2 separate regions of the Homo sapiens genome follow, and region 2 is reported to be linked to region 1. The links are microRNA targets in miRTarBase. Many come from high-throughput screens and were not tested one by one. Region 1 holds a microRNA gene; the other region holds the end of a gene's coding sequence.

Region 1 (3,400 bases):
AGGATGCCCAGGGTCCCTGCAGGAAGAACCCTCTTCCCCAGGAAAGCAAGGAAGGGTTCGGGAGGAGACAGTTCCTCCTACTCTTGGAAGTCTGTGATTTGGTGGCTGGGGGTGCCTGCCCATTGGAAGGGCCCCTTATAAATGCTTTGAGTTTGGAGATTTTGAGGGAAAAAAAGCACCTGATTGAGAGTGTAGCTGTTTCCAATACACCTCCCTTCCCTGACGGAGAAGGGAAGGAGGCAGAAAACAGGGGAGAGAGCATCCCCCCTTCATTCCCACACCGCCCCACTCCCAGAGCCAACCTGGGCCTCCCTTCAAGCTCGTACTTAGTACATTCACCATGACACTGTGCACCTGTGAGCTCTCTCCCGCTCTCACTCTCTTGCGTGCACACACGCACACGCACACACACGCACAGGTATGCACACATATATATGCAGGTGCGCGCACACACACACATCTGGTTTCCTTGCAGTCTGCTCAGGCAGCAGAAGGGTGTCCCATCCTCACCGTCATCTTTTACTTCCCAGGGTGCCCTTGGCCCACAGGTCCCCAAGACCCAGCCCCAGGCTTGGCACGCGCTGGCATTCCCAGGCTTTTGAGAAGAGGGTGATAGAGCAGGGAGCTCCTCACAGACAGGTTATACAGAGTGTAGAATATGTTCATATAAGGCTTTGGTACAGCACCGATTTCATGTTCTTATAGTTTGATTTCTAAGTCATCTTTTAGAAGAAAAAAAAGCTTACTGAAAAAATAGTGGTTTTATTTACTTTTGAGTTACATACCTGAAGTTCAAAAAGTAAGCCTCTAGTTGCCATTCAAGTTCACACTCAAAGGTGTTCTGTGTGCAGCTGTACAATTTGTTGGTTTGTCTTTAATGTTGAACAAAAGTCAGCCAACCCATACCATAAAGTCAGCTGCCCAAACTCACTTTAACCAGTCCATACATACATACAGAAAAGAAAGAGAGAGAGAGGGAGAACACAAAAGCCGCCCCTAAGTCACCCACCCCAAACCCCTAGGGAAAAATCAGAAAGAAGACAAAATACAGCAAGATATCAGGAGCCAGTGGGAGGAAGGAGATTCAGCCCAACTGGCCTCTTCGAGAACAGCACCATGAAGCACCCTAGCGCAGTGATGTTGTAATACTCAACATTCAAGAAATGGAAACGAGGTTGGAACGGTCTTCACAGGAAGACCTGGCATGGATCGGGGGTCGCCCCCAAAGAAAGTGGAAGAAAGAAAGAGTTCGAAATGAGAGCAAGAAATCTCATGACGAAACTGACAGTCATATCCAGAAAAGAAGAACTACAGCAAGAGGCTGCCGCGCACCGAGAGGTACAGAGTTTGTAAGGGGTCTGGGGGAGGTAGCCCCTCCCCACCCACACTGCCTGCTCACCCCCACCCTCTGTGTGTCCTCAGACCACCAGGTGAAATGGAGGAAAGAAGCTCATCTAAAACTTGCCCCCAGGTGTGCGATGGGAGAATTCTATCCTGCATGATCAAAGTCCCTCCTGGGGAAGAGAAAAACACTGAAGACCAAGGGGCAGGAGTCACTGACATGAAGCGGGATGTGGTCCCTTCACGTCAGTGACTGCGCCCCCTTCTGGGCCCTCTATCCCCAGCCCCACACCTGGCAGTTAGGAAATTAAATCTGAATGGGAGGTCAAGACCTTCTGACACTGATACAGACGACTTAGCAAGTGGAGCGTTAAACTGCTCTTCTCCCCTAGCCAACAATTCCCCTTTCTAACACCTCAGTCTAAAGTTCCAGAATCAAGACCATCCCATCAAGTACCTTCCTCCCAGTCCCTGGACTCTGAGACTCCACCCTCCAATGCCACAGGCAACCCCCTGTGGACAGGAAGTGTGTGTGCAGGCTTGCCTCTTCCCCCACCTCCTACTTTCAGACCGCCCAAAGTGGATCACCATGAACATCTACCGCCAAGAAGAGTGGAAGCGGGAAGCAGGCAGCAAAAATCCACGACAGAGCCTTTTCCCCAAGCTGCTGGTTGGTGACAGTGGGGAAGAGGGACAGGGCCCACACTGATCCATGGGAGAGTGATTCTCACACATCTCCCTATTCCCGACTCTTGCTCTATATAGTAGACAGAGGTAGCAAGACAGAAACAACTCCTCAGATACCTCCACCTTCTACCAAAGGGAAAAGCACCAAAATTCAATGTCCATTCTGCTGTGGGGACCAAGGAACGTGTCCCAAGCATGGGGAAGAGCTCAGGCTCCTGGCAGTGGCTGTGGGCCGTAAAAGCTCCATCAGAGCACACTCATCCACCTGTCGCCCCAACTGATGCCACAAGCGGTTCCCAGGCCTCCTCCTTACTCCACATAAAGCTGATCTCAATGACCTTTGCTCCAAGTGCCTTAAGGGCTGGCTCTTCAGAGAAGCTGGAGGTCCCCTCTGACACCCAACCTTACCTCATCTTGCTGAGCAGTGGAGCAGAAAGGTCACAGGTAGGCACTAACATCCCCTCCACACTGTACAATTTCAAGGTAGGGGCTATGGCCCCATCTTCCCTTTCCCTCCCCAAAATGAAGAGTCCTGTTGGAGGCTGAGGAATAGAATGGTGACATGTGGGCCAGTGGCTCTCCCAGACCTTGATGCTGCTGAGGACCTAATCTTGGGCTGGCCCTGGTGGGAGGGCAAGCCCTAGGACATGCCCGAGGTGTTGGAGCAGTTTACTCTGCTGGTTGCATGTGGCCAGAAGTCGGGCAGAGTCCACAGAAAGAGAGGGGATGGTGGGTCTAGAAGCCAACAGAACAGTAATGGGAGCCTCCCTTGTGCAGAGACCGTGGTGGTCTGGGAAGGCTTCAAGGTAGGAAGGGAACAGAATTTGCACCTCTTCTTCTTGCCCAATCCCCCTGAAAAATCTTACAAGAAACACTCAGCTGCAGGAGCCTGCAAGAAAGATCATTCAAGGCAAGGATGGTGCCACTGACAGTGGCACCAGCACTGGATCCTTCCAGCTGCATGGACAGAGCCCATTTCCCATCAGCGTCCTCGGAAAGTGGGGAGTGTTCTCAGCAGTTAATTTGAGGACCCAAGGACAGTGCCTGACTGAATGGCAGGGCCTCATAGGTCCATGTAAGGATCAAGAGTTAGACTCAAGCTTTACCCCAACCTACTCTTCCCATAATACCCCAAAACTGTCAACCAAGCCCTTCTCACGCTGAAGGTATCTGCTTTCCTCTAAGGACCAAACTCTATAGACAAGAGCTCTTAGGGAGTGCCATGTCTTGGTTAGGAAAGGGGTTAGTACTGCCCTTTTCTGAGTGATGAGCAGGAATAAGGAGCCGAAAGGTTGCAGTCCTGAGTCTCTCCTCACTGCCTGCACCATCTGGCCCAGCACCAGCTTCAAATACATCACTCCGAGCTCCGGGC
Region 2 (3,400 bases), not on the chromosome of region 1:
AAGGAGGCAGAGGGTTACAGTAATGTAAGATCAAGACTGGAAAATGATAGCTATAGAATTACAAGCCCGGTACCACCAGGTACCACATCACATAAGAAAAAAGGTTCTAATGTTTTCTTAACTTAACAGCAAACCAGTCCAGCTACGGGGGCCCAGCCAGCCAGCAGCTGAGTGGGGGTTACGGAGGCGGCTACGGTGGCCAGAGCAGCATGAGTGGATACGGTAAAGCCTGTTTGTTACTGTACTTAGAGTAAGTTATGGTAAAGCCTGTTCATTACTGTACTTAGAGTAAGTTATGGTAAAGCCTGTTACTGTACTTAGAGTAAGTCGCAGGCAGGTGCCTTTAGTTGGGAAGATGCAGGCTCCTTTCGGTGAAATTGGGTTATGAAATGTATGCTTTCAATCCAAATGTAACTGTTTTTACTAGCTAATTTTCAGAAACAATCATTGGGAGGGGGAAGTGTTCTTTGAATTAAGAACTAGTCATTGCAGCTTTGGAATACTGTCGAGCCAGAAAATATCTGCCTCCATGTATTAAAACATTAAATAAAGTTGTTCACTTTTTTGTCTTTTGGTTAGCATTAAGTCAGTTTTAGACAGAGGGAGAATTTGAAATAGTAGAATGGTGGTTGGGTTCAGGATCGTATTTATTAGTCAGTTAACCTAGGATTGGTTTTATTTATTTTTTTTCAATTGGTCTAAAGAATGGTGATTTTGGTATTATAGTCTTACCCTACAAAATCCTTTTGCAGACCAAGTTTTACAGGAAAACTCCAGTGATTTTCAATCAAACATTGCATAGGTAAATATTTTCTCAAAAAATATAAATTCCCAATAGCAAATACTGATATGTTGTAATAATGCTTTCTATAGCAGTCAATGGCTCTGACTTAACTCCATGGAGGCTGCCATTTGGGCACAGTGAGTTGCCTTTAGTCCAGCTTGGTTGTCTCACTTCCTGCCCACCATGAATAGGAAAAGCAAGAGACTTCCCCTGTGCTCCCTTTTCTCAAATGCCATTCGAGGGACACATTGTGAATGTTTATGTTAAATTTTTTTTAAAAATGCCTTGTTTAGCTTTAAAAATACGAAGTAATTTTGCAATTTTTGAAAAACACTAGTTTTCCTTTAAACTTAATTTTTCATGTTGATCCTGAAGAATCCGTTAAAATGGTAGCACAAGAGTCTGGCAAGTTGGTACTGCAGAGAAAAGGGGTTAATTGAGGCTTGTTTGGAGTCGGGATTCCCCTTTCCCAAACATGCGTCTCGCCACTTGGACAGCAGCCATTTGTACTCGTATACTTTTTAAACTTTTTCTTGGAATACTATATTTTATTTGACTGGTAGTCTGATATTACTCCTAACTTGTCAAATTGATCTCTTTGCAGGTAACCAAGGAGCAGTGAACAGCAGCTACTACAGTAGTGGAAGCCGTGCATCTATGGGCGTGAACGGAATGGGAGGGTTGTCTAGCATGTCCAGTATGAGTGGTGGATGGGGAATGTAATTGATCGATCCTGATCACTGACTCTTGGTCAACCTTTTTTTTTTTTTTTTTTTTTTCTTTAAGAAAACTTCAGTTTAACAGTTTCTGCAATACAAGCTTGTGATTTATGCTTACTCTAAGTGGAAATCAGGATTGTTATGAAGACTTAAGGCCCAGTATTTTTGAATACAATACTCATCTAGGATGTAACAGTGAAGCTGAGTAAACTATAACTGTTAAACTTAAGTTCCAGCTTTTCTCAAGTTAGTTATAGGATGTACTTAAGCAGTAAGCGTATTTAGGTAAAAGCAGTTGAATTATGTTAAATGTTGCCCTTTGCCACGTTAAATTGAACACTGTTTTGGATGCATGTTGAAAGACATGCTTTTATTTTTTTGTAAAACAATATAGGAGCTGTGTCTACTATTAAAAGTGAAACATTTTGGCATGTTTGTTAATTCTAGTTTCATTTAATAACCTGTAAGGCACGTAAGTTTAAGCTTTTTTTTTTTTTAAGTTAATGGGAAAAATTTGAGACGCAATACCAATACTTAGGATTTTGGTCTTGGTGTTTGTATGAAATTCTGAGGCCTTGATTTAAATCTTTCATTGTATTGTGATTTCCTTTTAGGTATATTGCGCTAAGTGAAACTTGTCAAATAAATCCTCCTTTTAAAAACTGCACTCTGTCTTGTCTGTGCTTCAGTGTCATGTGGACTGAGTCTTGGTGCTCTGTGCCCACCTGGGGCCTAGGGCCACATCTCTGGCTTGGCAGTTGAGGCTGTTGCGTAGATGTCTTCAGTCTTCCCTCCAGTGCAACTGAAGGTAAACTCGTCTTTGGGGCCCTGGTGGAAGGGCTGTATGTCATTTGGCTGCACAGGACCTGATCTGAACTGCCTGTAACTCATTAAGCACTTGCACAAAACAAAGGGGGAGGCGCCAGTGCCCTCACTGCATGCCTGCATGTCTTTGAGGCCTTCATGCTTGGCTGGGAAGGTGCCGGAGGCAAGGGAGGTGTGATGAATATGTGGGTTTCTTCTAGCTCATAAGCTCATAGGTTTGTTTTTTTTTTTGAGGCAGAGTTATATTCTGTTGTCTCAGGCTGGATTGCAGTGGCGTGATCTCAGCTCACCTGCAACCTCCACCTTGTGGGCTTCTGCCTCAGCCTCCCAAGTAGTTGGGGTTACAGGCGCCCACCACCACTCCAGGCTAATTTTTTTTGTATGTTTAGTAGACACGGGGTTTCACGATGTTGGCCAGGCTGGTCTCCAACTCCTGACCTCATGAGATCTGCCCACCTCGGCCTCTGAAAGTGCTGGGATTATAGGCTGGAGCCATTGCCCAGCCTTCACAGATGGTTTTCAAATGGAAGTTTTGAACTTCTGTATTTTTGGGTCATTCCTAAAAATCAATTCCACTTGGAAGCAAAATTCCATGTAAGTCTCCTAAGGTAGAACGATAGGTAGAGATTGAGAGCTAACATGAGAAGTTTAAATGAACTCTTAAATATATCACGTTTTGGTAGTTCGAAGCTCCAACATGATGATAGCAAGTATTCAAGCTGCTTCCAAGTGGTGTACCTGAGCGAGTTAGAAACGCCACACTTGGAGACGAGTTCAGGAGTCCTTTATTAGCCGGCGACCGAGAGACGGCTACCGCATGAAAGTATCTCGGCCTCGAAGAAGGAGCTAGATTTTCTTTTATACTTTGGTTTGGAGAGGGGAGGGGGATTCTAGCTGCAGCCATCTTAGGGAAGAAAAACAGACAAAAAAGTTAAAGACAAATGGTTACAGGAAAACAGTTCCAGGTGCAGGAGCTTCAAATTCATCACAAAGTGACAGGTGAGGGGGCTCTGGGTGTTATCTACCGGACAAACATGGGGGCTTGATGGTACCATCTCTGAGTAAATTGCTG

The links. The annotated mature microRNA hsa-miR-4697-3p reads UGUCAGUGACUCCUGCCCCUUGGU and lies in region 1 at 1,539-1,562, opposite strand. An mRNA with a match to its seed (bases 2 to 7 or 8) in the 3' UTR can be bound and repressed. Matches are read on the target gene's strand: a 7mer-m8 pairs with bases 2 to 8, a 7mer-A1 pairs with bases 2 to 7 and ends in A, and an 8mer does both.
Region 2: the mRNA of HNRNPH1 is a reported target of hsa-miR-4697-3p. Seed matches in the 3' UTR shown: 7mer-m8 at 1,523-1,529.

Annotation. Positions count from the first base shown.
Region 1 is chr11:133,896,968-133,900,367 of GRCh38, forward strand. MIR4697 (microRNA 4697) reads right to left here and starts at 1,614; the gene lies at 1,537-1,614. It overlaps IGSF9B (immunoglobulin superfamily member 9B), which reads right to left. Exons shown (of 20, transcript NM_001277285.4): 20 at 1-3,400.
Region 2 is chr5:179,612,948-179,616,347 of GRCh38, reverse strand. HNRNPH1 (heterogeneous nuclear ribonucleoprotein H1) reads left to right here. Exons shown (of 14, transcript NM_001257293.2): 12 at 130-222; 13 at 753-802; 14 at 1,389-2,170. The coding sequence ends at 802. The region is part of intron 4 of LOC128966623 (a long non-coding RNA gene); the gene reads right to left. Among named protein-coding and RNA genes, the nearest start is that of HNRNPH1, 9.0 kb to the left of the region's middle. RefSeq lists an enhancer at 2,461-2,520.